Linked DNA regions of Homo sapiens: region 2 is linked to region 1. Evidence: fine-mapped expression QTL. Tissue or cell type: minor salivary gland. Region 1 holds a variant in brackets; the other region holds the start of a gene. All regions are shown on one strand. Distances are between the middles of the regions.

What was found. PIP is the estimated chance that this variant, and not a neighbour inherited with it, causes the effect.
Region 2: it holds the start of SAR1A, and the variant in region 1 is fine-mapped to the expression of SAR1A in minor salivary gland (GTEx, PIP above 0.99).

The regions. Positions count from the first base shown.
Region 1 is chr10:69,339,556-69,347,555 of GRCh38, forward strand. It overlaps HK1 (hexokinase 1), which reads left to right. Exons shown (of 18, transcript NM_000188.3): 2 at 4,272-4,434. Among named protein-coding and RNA genes, the nearest start is that of HK1, 25 kb to the left of the region's middle. RefSeq lists enhancers at 1-273, 3,862-4,715 and a silencer at 5,320-5,449. The variant A/T (reference allele first, on the strand shown) is at 3,703.
Region 2 is chr10:70,166,354-70,174,353 of GRCh38, forward strand. It overlaps SAR1A (secretion associated Ras related GTPase 1A), which reads right to left and starts at 4,161. Exons shown (of 7, transcript NM_020150.5): 1 at 4,060-4,161. RefSeq lists enhancers at 3,127-3,785, 3,786-4,442, 4,576-4,655 and a silencer at 4,086-4,445.

The DNA.
Region 1 (8,000 bases):
GCCGTTCTCTGTGTCTGCAGCCTGCTTTTTGATTTGAGCTTCTAAGCTTTATTTGGATTTAGCTTGGTTGTCCTGAAACGTTGGGGTTTTTGGATCAATGTCTGTGTGCTGAGCTGCACCTTGACTTAGAAGGCAGGATAGCTGTGGAGTTATGGAGAGCTGCCTTTTCTAGAAGCTTCTCCTGTCCAGCGGGAAAACCCCAACAGCTCTACTTGGATCTGCCTTCTGCAGAGCAGGGGACCAGTCTTTCTTAAGGGGCAGGGATGATTGTATGGAGGAGCCTTAGACTTGCAGGTATAAAACCTCACTCCCCCAGCTGTGTGCTTTGAACTAATCACTTAGCTTCTTGGACCATCAGTTTCTGTGTCTGTAAAATGGGGATTAAGAACATCTCCCAGACAGTTTTGAAGGTTAAATGACATACTGGATCTTGATATACTGATATACTGTAAGCCACAAGAGAATTATATAGTATTATTCCAGGATCCAGCATTGTTTGAATTCCTCCTTTGTGTCAAGCAACTGGGTGAGTTCCAAAGGTCTATTCAATATGTTTTCTTTCCCTGGGGAACTCACGCAGTATCATAGGAGATGGACAGCTTGGTAAAAGGATAATCATGATGTGTGAGGAGTGTGGTCGTTGGGGCGTGTCCAAAATGCTGGAGTAGCAATGTACCTTTTTTAAAATTAAAATTAAAAAAAATTTTTTGAGATGGAGTCTTGCTGCATTGCCCAGGCTGGAGTGCGATGGCGCGATCTTGGCTGACTGCAATCTTCTCTACCTCCTGGGTTCACGCGATTCTCATATCTCAGTCTCCTGAGTAGCTGGGATTACAGGCATGCACCACCATGCCCAGCTAATTTTTGTATTTTTAGTAGAGACCGGGTTTTACCATGTTGGCCAGGCTGGTCTTGAACTCCTGACCTCAGGTAATCCACTCGCCTCGGCCTCTCAAAGTTCTGGGGTTACAGGCATGAGCCATTGCTCCCGGCCTTAAAATTAAAATTAAAAAATATTTTAGAGGTGCGATATCACTATGTTGCTCAGGCTGGTCTTGAACTTTTGGGCCTAAGCAATCCTCCTGCCTCGGCCTCCCAAAGTGCCAGGATTACAGGCATGAGCCACTGTGCCAGCTAGCAATGTAGCTTTTATTGTATGATCTTGCGCTTGCTCCTCCATTCTCCACGCAGCAGACACACAACTCTCATCATGGTTGTAATCAGTAAAGCCGTCCCAAGGCTCGCTGTGCTGTGGGATCCCGCTTGTATTTGTTTATGTGGCTCATCAGGCCCTGTGTGGTTGAGCTCTGGACAGTCTTTCCAGGCACACCGTCTGCTTGTTCATCACAAAAACCACCCTCCCTCCCCTTCGGACTTCACACATGCCCTTGCTTGTGCCTGGGCATGCTCTCCAACTTCGCCTCTCCAGGAAGCCTTCTCTCCCATGCTTGCAACGTGGCTGTCTCTCCCTGCAGACCCAGGGCACTATGATGGCAAGGGCTGCTGATGAATGCCACCAGCCAGAATAGGGCATGGCTTGTCTCTCCTCCCAGGGCCATGTTTTTGGCAATTTTATTTCCTTTAAAAAATATATATACATATTTCTTTCTTTCTTTTTTTTTTGGAGACTGGATCTAAGTCTGTCACCCAGGCTGGGGTACAGTGGCAGGATCATAGCACCCTGCAACCTCTGCTTCCCCAGCTCAGGCAATCCTCCCGCCTCAGTCTCCCGAGTAGCTGGGACTACAGGGGCGTATCACCACGCCTGGCTAATTTTTGTATTTTTTTAGAGACGAGGTTTTGCCAAGTTTCCCAGGCTGCTCTCGAACTCCTGGCCCCAAGCAATCTGCCTGCCTTAGCCTCCCAAAGTGTTGGGATTACAGGTGTGGGCCACTGCTCCTGGCCAATTGTTAATTTTTTTTTTTTTTAGAGACAGTCTCACTCTGTCACTTAGGCTGGAGTACAGTGGTTCAATCATGGCTCAATGCAGCCTCAACCTCTTGGGCCCAAGTGATCCTCTTGCCTCAGCCTCCCGAGTAGCTGAGACTACAGGTGTGCATCACCATGCTGGGCTAATTTTTATTTTTTGTAGAGACAGGGTTGTTGCCCAGGCTAATCTCGAACTCCTGGGCTCAAATGATCCTGCTGCCTTGGCCTTGCAAAGTTCTAGAATTACAGGTGTCAGCCACCATGCCTGGCCTCTTCTGGCAATTTCTATTCTGGCTCTTGGTGGTTCCTGATTGCCCTTCTTTGAGCTGCTTTATTGTAAAGGGAAAAAGGTGGTAGGGCTAGTGGTTAGGAGTGGGGGCAAGGATCATCCTTGGGCGCAGAGAGTGTTGGCAGACATTTTGGGAGGCCTAGGTGGGTGGATCACTTGAGGTCAGGAGTTTGAGACCAGCCTGGCCAACATGGTGAAACCCTGTCTCTACTAAAAATACAAAAATTAGCAGGGCGTGGTGGCGCACGCCTGTAATCCCAGCCACTCAGGAGGCTGAGGCAGGAGAATTGCTTGAACCTGGGAGGTGGAGGTTGCAGTGAGCCAAGATTCTGCCACTGCATTCCAGCCTGGGTGACAGAGATAGACTATGAAAAAAAAACCAACCCCAAAAACAAACAAACAAACAAACAAACAAACAAACAAAGGAAAAAACACCAGTGTTAAGGTCTTTTCAGCCTTGTGGGGCTGTAAATCTGTCTCTCTATCCAGTGGGAGCCTTCTGTGTGCAAGGCTCCATGTGAGGCACTGGGGAGGTCAGGGTGACACGCATGGAAAGCTGGGATCCAGACCAGACCCTGCCTAGGGGTCAGTGCTGAAGGAGTGGTGATATCCAGCCTGAAGGACTTGGACATCTTCAGGAGGAAGTGACAGTTGATTTGAACCTTGAAGGTTAGGTGAGCTGGGAAGAAAAGGAAGGGCATTTCAGGTAGAGGTGACAGCAGAAGGAGGAGAGCCTGGAGCACCTACTAGGAATGGTAGAGGTGGTTTGGCCGGAGTTCAGAGAGCACAGAGCCACACCTGCAGAGGGTAGGTGCCTTGGCAGTGGGGAGGCATTGCAAGGCTTTGGGCAGAGGCATGACTTGATTAGGGTTGCACTTTAAGAGGCTGATGCTGCAGTGGTGTAGAAGATGGGTTGGAAGGAAGAGATTGAAGATAAACTGTTACAGTGGATCATCAGCAATCCAGGCACACAGAGCAGCAGAAAGAGTGGATGGTGAAACAAAAGAACCTTCCTCGGTGGACTCTACAGGGATAGTGCCATCAGGACAGGTGTCTAGCTCAATTCTAGGCACCTAGCTGGTGCCCAGTGAATCCTTTTTTGGGAGAATAAATGCGAAGATGCCATGAAGGACAAACAATTAGTGATAGCCAGTGACAACCCAGGGTGCCTAAGGTTAGGAGCCTGGGCAGCTTGAGGAGAACGGGGAACTCAGGAAGAGGAGCAGGTTGGGTCAGGCCTGGTGAAGGGTGGGAGTAGTTTGACTCGGAGGTGCAGGGCCCATGGCCTGGCACACAGGCCCGGCACATGGGTATGGGAGCCCAGGGGCTGTCTCCATTCATTGAGGCTGGGTTTAAGGTTTCTGTGCTCTGGGCCTGCCACCCTGTGTTCTCAGAAGGGTCCTAGCCCTTTGGCCGCCATTTCTGTCTTTCTAGAAGTCTTGCCCATGGACACCTGCCAGTACTACTGTCTCATGTTAATAATA[A/T]TAGCTGATGTTTATTGAGCAGTTACTGTGTTCTAAGTGCTTGTGTCTCATTTGAACTTGTCCTATATGTTAGGTCCTATCTATCATCTCAGTTTTTCAGTTGAGGAAACTGAAATTCACACAGCTGTTAAGCTCTGGGGCTAGGATTGAACCCAGTTGGCTGGCTCCAGAGCCCTTGTTCGTAGCCTCTCTGTCATTCCCATCCCAGTGAGAGTGAGCCAGCCAATTCTCAGAGAGAGAAGGAGGCTTGAGGTGTTCCTGATACTGGAGGAAACCTACCTCCATCAAGTACTTGGGGGTTGAAGAGCAGCTTCCATGTCATATTTGAGGGTTGGAAAGGATCTTAGAGATATCGGGTTCATTTTACAGGCCAGGAACTAGGGCTCAGAGCATTTGCAAGCCTGTTCTGGGTGACATGGATGACAGCAGTTGAATGACCTTCCGCCATGCGATGTGCCAGCGTGCGTGTTCCTGTGCCTGTGGGAGCTGGCTATCTCAGCGGGTGGGTGCCTCACCTTGCCCTGTCCTCCCCCTCGACCTCACTCTCCTTCCTTCTCATCCCCCTCCAGATTGACAAGTATCTCTATGCCATGCGGCTCTCCGATGAAACTCTCATAGATATCATGACTCGCTTCAGGAAGGAGATGAAGAATGGCCTCTCCCGGGATTTTAATCCAACAGCCACAGTCAAGATGTTGCCAACATTCGTAAGGTCCATTCCTGATGGCTCTGGTAAGTCTGTCACCCAGAGATTGAACCCTGAGGGCTAAATGTTCTGTGAAATCTTCCTTCTAACTTCATTTGTTCATACATTTGCTCATTCATTCATTCACCATTCCATCAATCTGCTCTCCCATCCATCCATCCATCCATCCGCTGATCCATCTGCTGATCCATCCATCCATCCATCCATCCGCTGATCCATCCATCCAATATGTGTCTACTGAGACCTTATGCCAGTCACTGGGGATACCATGGTTGGGCAAGGCTGACCTGCTGTCATTGACTTTACTGTCTAGTGGCTTGTGATACTTTAGAAAGTGTAGTGTTTATGGGTCTCGCAGATACTGTGTGGGTTGCTCTTATGTCTTCAGAACATGAAGAACTCCAGAACAAATGAAGGGTTCATTTTAGGGAAATCTCTCCATCAGGGAATCAAAGCTTCCCTCTCTTCTTATCCCAGATAATAGCAATCCTAATGGACAGGTGGGTCTCAGACTTAAAGGCAGAGATTCCAGACCCCCTTTGGACAGATTTCACAGATGCAGAATTGAGGCAGCCCCCAAAACAAAGAAATACAGAGGGGAGGTAGAATTGAAAGAAAAATTGTATCCTTTCACTCTGCATCCTGTGGCTCATACCCTGCAGTGGGGCGTTGGGGGAGGGCCCCCTGAGGATTGTCTGTTTCTCCTCCCCAGAGGAGTGGTATCAGCCCCTGCACCTGGCTGAGCGGAGACTGAGAAGTCGCAGTCTGGCCTGCTCAGTGGAAGCTGTTCTTCCCGGCAGACCCGCAGTTACTAGTTTGTGGAGGTGAATGCTGTGCTTGCTCCAGCGTGGCGCCCTCACAGGAATCCCCTGTTAGCTGTGTTCTGTGCTCTAGGGTGGGGCTCACCTGCTGTAGGCAGCAGAGGGAGGGAGAGCAGGAGGAAGTCAGGTTTCCCTTGGGGTTGTGAGTACACGACCAGTGAGTACAGCTTTCACACACCCCTGCGATTTCTTCCCTGCTCTCGAGGCTCTTATTTAAAGGAGTGATTTGGGGCATCTTGTATGCAGCCTGCAAAATGGACGCCAGGAAACTGCAGCTGTTGCAACTGATGTTCTTGAAAGATGGGCAAGTGGGAGTAGGCTGGTTGCAGCAGGAAAAGACCTCTGCTCTCTGCCTGCAGTCATCCTGAATGAGATTTGGACGCTGATAAAGAGGCCTTGTGCTGTTCACTGTGGCCACGGGTGGGGTCTACTTCATGCTCACATATTAGCATGTATATCTCTGATGTAAGCCTACTCCACCTCCACCCTTTTGTTTAGGTGTTGATTACTAGCACCTACTTCTAGCTTTTTAAGAACTACTGAAGAGATTCTGGCCATCAGAGTGAATAGACTGTGGTCTACCCTGGGTGTGTTCGCTTGTCTCTGGCTGGAGAAGAAAGAACTTTATATATAGTTCACTCTTGCTTTTTCCCAGCCATGGATGTCACCTACAGCCAGGAGCACTGGAACCTTTCCAGGATGAGGAGAGCTATGTAGCAGAGGCATGGCTCTGACTGCTTCCAGCTGAGAGAAGAGGAAGGAGCGGGGAGGGGAGGGGGTATGGGCAGCACCCAGGAGAGCACCTGCTTTGGCTTTGCTTGGGAGAGCTCAGAAGGCTACCTGATCCCTGCGAGGCACCTGGCCCTGTGTGACTGGCTCAGGGCAGACACAGGGGAGGAGACACTTTGCCTCCTACCCACTGGGCCCTGCTCTCAAGCCAGCTGTGTCCCAGGGACCTATGTCAGCAGGGGTGCTCTCCCTCTCCTTCACAAACTGTTTCCAGGATTGAGAGTCTCAAGGTGTGATCCAAGTGCAGTAGAAATCCAGCCATTTGCCATATTGGCTACTCCTCCAAACAAGGCTTAGAACTCATACTCATTTGTGAAATGTATTTTTCACCCCCTTTTAGAGATTCATAGAAACGGCACCCCCCCATTCCAAATATTTATGGGTGGGTTCAGTTCATGTGCCCCAGAGCCCACACTTCGCTTGCAATGGTCCCTACAGCCCCGCAAAGACATTGCTGTTGATGCTAAGGACTTGGATACCCAACCCCCAGTCCACTTCCTGCCCCTTCGTGTTGTGCCGGGCTTCTGTCTTCACCTCCCCCTGCCTCTTGGCTCCTTTATCATCCAAGAATCAGGAGATCCCTGCAGTAATCAGAATCTGGGTCTCTTAATAGTAAATCCATAGTGCTGTTCCCTTTTTGAAATGTTAATCACTGCTTCAACTGTAGTAATTAGTGACAGAATTAGTGGTAATCCCAAACCACGGAGGGATAAATTGGCGCTCACCATGGTGGAGCAATGCCTAAGTGGTGATGTGATTTCCAAGGCAAAGGAAGGAAACAAGCCTTTCCTTTCTTGCTGACCTTGACCCTGGTCGACTAGACACAGAGTTTTGGAACTCAACTGACTTTCCAGAAGCATTTCTGAAAACATATCTGATACATACATTCTGATACCTATCAGCCCATTTTTAATTAGTTTCTTTCTTTTTTGGTCATTTTTTTTTTAATGGGCAGTGAGGTTTTTGTTTTTGGTATTTTGTAGAGATAGGGTTTTGCCATGTTGCCCAGACTGGTCTTGAACTCCTAGGCTCAGGCGATCCTCCCACCTCCCAAAGTGCTGGGATTACAGGCGTGAGCCACCTCACCTGGCCTGTTTTTATTTTTATTTTTTAGTTGTTCTTCAATAATCTGTATATCATTAAAAAAACCCCAAAAACCTAAAGTGGCTTTTTGCTGCTGCATATCATTTTTGAGGTAGTGGATGAATGAATAATAAAGAAGGAAAATATTGAAGCCTCTTAACATTGGTGATTTGGCTAAATAGAATTCCCTCTTCAAAGCTACTGTAGGGAGCAAGGGAAAACGTCCCCTTTGCCCTCTGAATGTTGGCTGAAAAATCAGCTCACAAAAGGCAGATTAATAGGAGAAAGGGCATACACATTTATTAACATGCATGTGGGAGAATCACAGACTGATTACTCAAGTATCCCGGTGGGGCCCAGATACTTACATTTCCTCTTTTCTTTTCCTTTTTTTTTTTGAGATGGAGTCTTGCTCTGTTGCCCAGGCTGGAGTGCAGTGGCACGATGGTTCAAGCGATCCTCCTGCCTTAGCACCCCCTACGTAGCTGGGATTATAGGCACCTGCCACCATGCCCAGCTAATTTTTGTATTTTTAGTAGAGACGGGGTTTTGCCATGTTGGCCAAGCTGGTCTCGAACTCCTGACCTCAGGTGATCCACCCGCCTCGGCCTCCCAAAGTGCTGGGATTACAAGTGTGAGCTACTGCGCCCGGCCACACATTTCCTCTTTTCAGAGGGGAGGCAGGAGACAGGGAACAGTAAATGATTACTAGGGAGAATGAAGATATCAGGGAACAGAGATTAACCAGTACCGGTTCTCTTTGGAAATTGAATAGGAGACAGATTTTTTTTTTTTTTTTAAGACAGTCTCGCTCTGTCGCCCAGGTTGCAGTGCAGTGGCATGATCTCGGCTCACTGCAACCTCCGCCTCCCGGGTTCAAGCAATTCTCCGGCTTCAAC
Region 2 (8,000 bases), 830 kb after region 1:
GTCTTATCAATAATGTGAATCAGAATGCCACTTAGATGCACTAAATAGAAAATAAGAATGAAAAGCACATTGATTTGAATGAAAAACATATTAATCTATCCTGTAAACAACTCTAAAAAACAAAAGTCACCCAAAATTCTACTGGCCAGCACCACTTGCCCTGCTCCATTTACCAATGTTATCTCAATATTTAATCATTTTTGCAGACACGGGTCTCAATTTATAAAAAGAAATGACATCACTATTTTAGAGAACCATTAAGGGATAAGAAGAGAATCTTTTCATACATGAATAATCACACCCAAACTCATTTTACAAATAGATTTTCTTAAAATAAGAATACTTATTCAGGCCGGGCCCCCGTGGCTCACACCTGTAATCCCAGCATTTTGCAAGGCTGAGGTGGGGGATTCCTCCCTGACCTCAGGAGTTCAAGACCAGCCTGGGTAACATAGAGAGACCTGCATCTCTACAAAAAAAAAAAAAAAAAATTAAAATTAGTCAGGCATGGTGGCACGTGCTTGTAGTTCCAGCTACTTGGGAGGCTGAGGCAAGAGGATTGCTTGAGCCCAGGAATTTGAGGCTGCCGTGAGCTATGATTGTGTCACTGCACCCCAGCCTGGGTGGCAGAGCAAGACCCTGTCTCAAGAAACAAAAAAGCAAAAAAAGAATACTTTTCAGGATATAGCAGTAAGTTCCCAAGCCAGTAAATAACTTAACTGGTACTGATATTAACACTACTTTTTCTATTGTTTCTCATAGCTATCAAAAGCTACTAAAAGGTTTACATATATTGGTAATAAGCAAAATGACCTCTGAATGAAATTAAGAGGGTAGGATCTAGACACACTGGTGGGTCTTAAGGTTTCTCAGCATTGTCTGGCCATGCTGAATTTTTGCTTTAGTATCTCAGATGCGGTGCAGAAAAATGGAAGGTCCACACTTTTACTCCTCTCCATCAGCAGGAGCATCTGAACACAGGGCTTTATACTAGATATGACCAACTGCATTCAAAATTTTCATGAACAGTAACCAGTAAAAGCATTACCCACAAAAAAATCCCCTTACATTCAAAGAATGCCAGATGAAGAATAAAATGAACAGCTGGGCGCGGCAGCGCTTGCTTGTAATCCCAGCTATGCAGAAGGCTGAGGCAGGAGAAACGCTTGAACCTAGAAGGCAGAGGTTGCAGTGAGCGGAGATCGCTCCACTGCACTTCAGCCTGGGTGACAGAGCAGGACTCCATCTCAAAAAAAAAAAAAAAAGAGTAAATTGAAAAGTAGAGCTGGTATGTTTTTCATCCAATTACTGGGTTTTTATCAGGCCCATGGCCTAATCTGTAAATTTTAGGGCCTAATTAATATTTATTTTTCACGGCCCTTACCAAAGACAGCCAAATAAAGTTTGGCAGTTTGGGTGGATACATACTAGGCTCTTACGAAAAAATACTAAATGAGGTGATTTCTTTTTTGCCTTTTCAATAACAAATATATTTCAGCAGAAAGACTGCATTTATCACATTAACTAATAGTTTTCTCTGGAAATTGAGTCCGCACTTTAAGGAGTCCAACAACTTAAATATACTTAATAAAGCTCCTGTGCTGAAATTCCCATTTACTGTAAATAAGTAAAAGAACAATGTGCCCTTCCTCTGCAACTCCCTCAAACCAAACATCCTCCTATACTTTTCTCAATCTACTGCCTGGAGAAGCACAGCTCACCTTTAGAGCACACCCCTCATTAAGGTCATTCCCACTCAGATCATTTTGGAGGGAAGAATTAAAGCATCCAAGTAGCTAAATCCCGGCTGCTGCTGATTTGTATGCTCCAAGGGAGGAGATGGCTTAAAAGCAGGAGTGTCAAAGGAAAATAAAATGGAAAATTAAAGTAGTTCAATTGCCATGAAAAACTATTTAAAGTGTGGCATTTTCTCCTTTTCACCTTTGCAGAATTCATCTAGTTGAAAATACTTGGCTCATGCCTGTAATCCCAGCACTTTGGGAGGCCGAGGCAAGTGGATGACCTGAGGTCAGGAGTTCGAGATCAGCCTGGCCAACATGGTGAAACCCCATCTCTACTTAAAATACAAAAATTAGCTAGGCATGGTGGGCGCCTGTTATCCCAGCTACTCGGGAGGTTGAGGCAGGAGAATCACTTGAACCCGGGAGGCAGAGGTTGTAGTGAGCCGAGGTCATGACATTGCACTCCAGTCTGGACAACAAGAGCAAAAACTCCATCTCAAAAAAAAGAAAGAAAGAAAAATTTCTAAAGTGATGTAAACATTTTTTACAAGTCTGTAAAGTATTGACTGAAAACCAGTGTAGTACAAATGTATATAGAAGTGTTGGGTTGTAAAGGAGTGATGAGAGTGGAGGCTGACTGAAGAAACTCTTCAGGTGAGCTAAAAATAATAAAAACCCTTACTAGATCCAAAGAGTCGGGTTGCACTGCTACCCAAAGTTAAGAAAATGCCCCCGCCCCCCTTTTCTTAAGACAGACCAAGACTCTGTCTCCAAGGCTGAAGTGCAGTGTTGCCATCATGGCTCACTGCAGCCTCAACCTCCCAGGCTCAAGAGATCCTCCCACCTCAGCCTCCTCAGCAGCTGAAAATGGCCTTGGTGGCTCCTCTCTCCTTAAGATCTTAGGATTTGTACCAACTCATCAGTAGTTTTACAATCTGCACAGTACTTGTACATCTCATTTCATCCCCACACCAACCCTACCAGGCAAGGATCACTGGCCTCATTTAACAAGATAAAGATGAGGATACTCCTAGTTTTGCTGAGTCCTTTAAGACGGCTCAGTTGAAAAAGTAATAGTGCCAGGGCTTAAACCCTCATCTCTAACACCAAAGCCTAAGCTCTTCCTGTTAACAGTACATAAAATTCAAACCCAAACCACAAAATTGCTGGGGAAAAAAAAAAAAACTAAAACTTCTTTAACCCACCAACTACACAGAGGATGATCTTCCGAAGTTCTCTTCCTTACAACTCATCACATCTTTTGAATGGTATTTTAATAACTAGCATTCTATTTATTTTCTATTCTTGGTCCATTGTACCACCTTACGAGAAGTTAAGAGTAATCTAAAATTTAAGGTAGGTCTCTAAACTATCAACAAAACACTATTAATGTACCTAAAATGAAAACTTGCGAATTCCAGGGCTAAATGATTCAAACAAATGTTAATAGAAAAGGAGGGCACCAATCTGACCATTAGCCAATTTAAAAATTTACGCATTACTTGTTATACATAATCAGGGCAACTTTAAGACGCCATTCCAGGCAGATTTGGGGTAGTAGGCGGCTGGCTTTTAGCTAACTCTGCTTAGCTGCGGGGTAAATGTCAAAGGTCAGCCCCATGGCGAATCTCCCTAAGCCCCCTGTCGCAACCGAAGCCGATGGAATCAACAAGACAAAGATGCTCCTGACCCACTGGCTAGAATCGTGAAGAAAACGCTAATCCATGTCAAATGCACATAAGGAAATTTTTCCATGCAGAGACCAGACAGGGGAAAAGGGGAAGGGAGAAGGAGAAAATACAGGGTTCGACCCGGGCCATCGGAAGACAACCAAGCGCTGACTTGGGGGTAAGCCCTGGACTAGGGGCCTGTAGACCAGGTTCGAGCGCTCACACTCGCTAACTGCGGAGCCTTGGCCAGCCTCAGTCTCCGAGTCTACAAAACAAGGATAATCATAAAGGGCTCCCACCCGCCTCACCGAGGGCTGTGAGGCTCTTCCGAGACAGAGGACATGGAGCCATTTCGTAAACCGGAGCGCACGGTACAGACAAGAAACTGTTATCCGGCCCAGCAGCTGCGAGACCCCCGAGCGGAATGCAAGTGGACCCCAGGCAAAGAGGACAGCAGGGGACGGAGCAGATCTGGCCAAGTTGTCCCGTCCCCGCCCAGAATCAGCCCCGCGGCCCCACAGAACCGCCTGCGTGTCACTTCCCCCCCACCCAACCCCGCCAGGGCCAGCCTCCGCTCCGACCTCCCCGCCTTCCGTCCCAGCCCCTCGAGCCCCAACTCCCCTCCCCGACGCGACCCTCAGACTCACGGCCTGAGGGGCTCCTCCGGCAAAACAGCGGCTGGCTCGGACCCTCCCTCAGAGCACACTAACCAGCAGCACCCGGGACCGCCAGCTACTCGCCGGATGTACGTCACACCCCTCCCCGGGACTTCCGGGCGCGTAATGGGCCCCGCCCCCTCACAGCGTTACGCCTCTCTGCCCCGGTGCCGTCCCACCAGCGACTCGGGCCGCGGAGGGGCGGGCATAAGGCGTGACAAAGCGCGCTCGGGGTCTGGCCCCGCCTCGGCCCCGCCTGCTCCCGTCTGGCTAGCTGACCGCGCGAGACGTGGCAGCGCCGGAACCCTGGGTCCGGGGCTGGGTCCTGGAGTCCCTGAGCGGCCTGGTACACTCGGGATCGCGGCTTCCCATTCCAGACGCACCAGGAAAGTCAGAAGTGGGTACCGACGGTGACATAGGTCCTGGGAAAGATGAGTTGACCTTGGGGCCCTCCACTTGAGGTGGATCCCTCCAAGCTTTTGCTTTTTTTCTTCCTTGCTTTTTTTTTTTTTTTTTTTTTTTTTGAGGCGGAGTCTCACTTTGTCGCCCAGGCTGGAGTGCAGTGGCGCGATCTCGGCTCACTGCAACCTCCACCTCCCGGATTCAAGCGATTCTCATACCTCGGCCTCCCGAGTAGCTGGAACTACAGGCGCATGTCACCACACCTGGCTAATTTTTTTGTATTTTTACAGAGACAGGTTTCACCGTGTTGGCCAGGCTGGTCTCGAACTTCTGACCTCAAGTGATCCGCTGGCCTCGGCCTTCCAAAATGCTGGGATGAGAGGCGTGAGCCACCGCGCCCAGCTGCTTTTGCTTTGAGTCGCACTTCCTTGCCCTGGGGTGGCCTATGTTTTAGAAAAACAGAAAAACAGCTAATATTTATTGTGCACTTATGTTCCAGGCAGAGCACTGGGTACTTTGCACGCTTTGTCTAATTTCACCGTCATTGGAGTCCTGTGACTCCAGATGCTAGTATTATCCTTATTGACAAATGAGAGAGCAATGTTCAGAATAACCTACCATGCCCAAGTTCACACAGCTAAGTGGCAAAGCAACGTGTTCACCCCAGTATATTTCGCATGCATTTTCTCATTTAATTCTCAGGACAGTCCCACGAGATTGGTACTATTATTACTCTCATTTTACAAATAAAACAGTCTAATGGAAAGATGAATGACGTCTGTGGGTTCATGAAGATCTCAATTCTCCTTTAGTAAAATTTAAATTTAACATAATCCCAATAAAAGTACTAATAGGATTAATAGGTCGTGTGTGGTTTCGTTCTTTTTTTTTAATTACCCTATTTGTTCCTAAAATTCGTATAGAAAACCAAACAAAACTAGTCCAGAAACAGGCTTTCAAAATGAAGAACAAGGAGGTGGGAACTAACCCTGTTGGATATTAAAACATATTATAGAGCCTAAGTTATTAAAACTGGTGTGCGTGCACATGCACAAACACACACACACAAAAAACACAATGGAACAGAGCAAAGTACAGAAATGACTAAAGTACATGCAGAAATAAAACTAAAGTAGCACCTGGGACTCCAGCAATACTCAGGGAGCTGAGTGGGCAAGCTCACCACCCTCTACCCTCCGCTCATCCTGGGGTCTTAGATGTTGAATTTGAACCCTGTCCTGTCACAGAAAGGTGTCAGGCCACTTCTGAGGCTTCTCACCAGCTTTAGCTAAACCAGGGACAATGTGTCCATGGGGCTTGGAACCCCTTGTGCATCCTGGAGACACAGATGCAAGCCCAGTGCAAGCCAACACATTGGATTACTGGCTTTGTTGAGAGCCTGGCTGCACGAGGTGGAGGTGTCTGAACCACAGGATGGCTTGGGAGGCTGGGGAAGGAGGGAACATGCAGGCAGATTCTCAGAAAAGCCGCAAACTCTACTTACCTAAAGGCTTGAGCAAGTTGACGAATGCCCCAGACCACCATGTACCCACTGTAAAATGGGTGAAACAGGCATTGTTGTGCACATAGTTTTTCCAGAGTACTGTTTTCAATAAATGATTCTGTTATGTGTTGTTAAATAAATTAATAAATAATAAAAGGGGTTGAGACAATTGGGTAGTCAAAAAAACCTACAGGTTGAATCTCCAAAAGTTTATTACTCTAAACAAGTTTCAAGTGATGAAAAGATGTGTGTATTTTGAAATGACACTATAAAGGTACTAGAAAAACAGAAGAAAGCATGGATTCCTTATAATTTTGCAATGAGAAGACCTTTCTGGGTATGATTGAAAATCTAGACCGGGCGTGGTGACTCATGCCTGTAATCCCAGCGCTTTGGGAGGCTGAGACTGGCGAATCACAAGGTCAGGAGTTCGAGACCAGCCTGGCCAACATGGTAAAACCCCATCTCTACTACAAATACAAAAAATTAGCCAGGCGTAGTGGCAGGCGCCTGTAATCCCAGCTACTTGGGAGGCTGAGGCAGGCGAATCGCTTGAACCCCTGCGGCAGAGGTTGCAGTGAGCCGAGATCACACCACTGCACTCCAACCCCGGGCAACAGACTGAGACTCCATCTCAAAAAAAAAAAAAAAAAAGAAAGAAAAGAAAATGTAGATGCCATAAAAGAAAAGATTGACAAATTTAACTACATAAAAATTAAAAACTTATATGGCATAACAACAATCATGACACCATAAGCAAACTCAGACAAATGACAAGTTGAGAAAAATAATCACATCATAGGCAAGTAAGAAGTATGAAAAAGACTAACAACACAATAGGAAAATAGGCAACAGTTCAGAACAGATAATTCATAGGAAAGGAAATAAAAATGACTTTTCTTTTTTTTTTTTTTTTCTGAGACCTAGTCTCACTCTGTCACCCAGGCTGGAGTACAGTGGCGGTCTCGGCTCACTGCAACCTCTGCCTCCAGGATTCAAGCGATTCTCCTGCCTCAGCCTCCTGCATAGTTGGGATTACAGGCATGAGCCACCGAGCCCGGCTAATCTTTGTATTTTTAGTAGACATGGTCTTTGTATTTTTAGTAGAGATGAGGTCTCACCTTGTTGGCCAGGCTGGTCTCAAACTCCTAACCTCCAGTGATCCGCCCGCCTAGGCCTCCCAAAGTGCTGGGATTACAGGCATGAGCCACTGCGCCTGGCCCAAAAATGACTCAAGCATAATAAAATAGTAATAGAAATATAGATACTATAGAAAATATAAATATAGATATTATAGAATAATAGATATAGAAAATATATAAATCCATTTATTTGTCTATGTATCTCTGTATAGTTATATCTATACTGAAATAGAAATAGATTTTAAAAAATAAAAGATAAATTTGAAACTTACTGAGATACCATTTTCACCTGTCAGATTGGCAAAAGTTCACCAGTTTATTGGTGGGAAGGCTGTTTCAGATAGAGAAGTCAGACTGGGCATGGTGGCTTATGCCTGTAATCCCAACACTGGGAGACCGAGGCAGGAGGGTCGCTTGAGCCCAGGAGGTTGAGGGTACAGTGAGCCATGATTGCACTCCAGCCTAGGCAACAGAGCGAGACCTTGTCTCTAAATTAATTAATTAATTAACTAAATCAAATACAGAAGTCAAGAAAGGCCCCACCCAGGTGCTATTTGGATAAGAACATGAAGGACATTACATGGCTGTCAGGGTAGACTGTTCCAGGCTGACAGCAGAGGCCCTAAGGCAGGAGTGTGCCTGGCAGTTTCCAGGAACATCTGGGAGGCCAGTGTGACCAGGCAAGGTGAGCAACAGAAGGAGTGGTAGGAAATGGGGTGAGGTGTTTGTGGTCAGAACTGTGGAGGTTCTGGGGTTCTACCTAACTTGCAGGTTAACAGGTTAGCCTGACACAGTCTCAGATGCTGGCAGTCACAGGACTCCTGGATCAGAGACAAACTATGTTATTACTTCCGGCATAGCGAGCAGCATGAACTTCCTGTTTG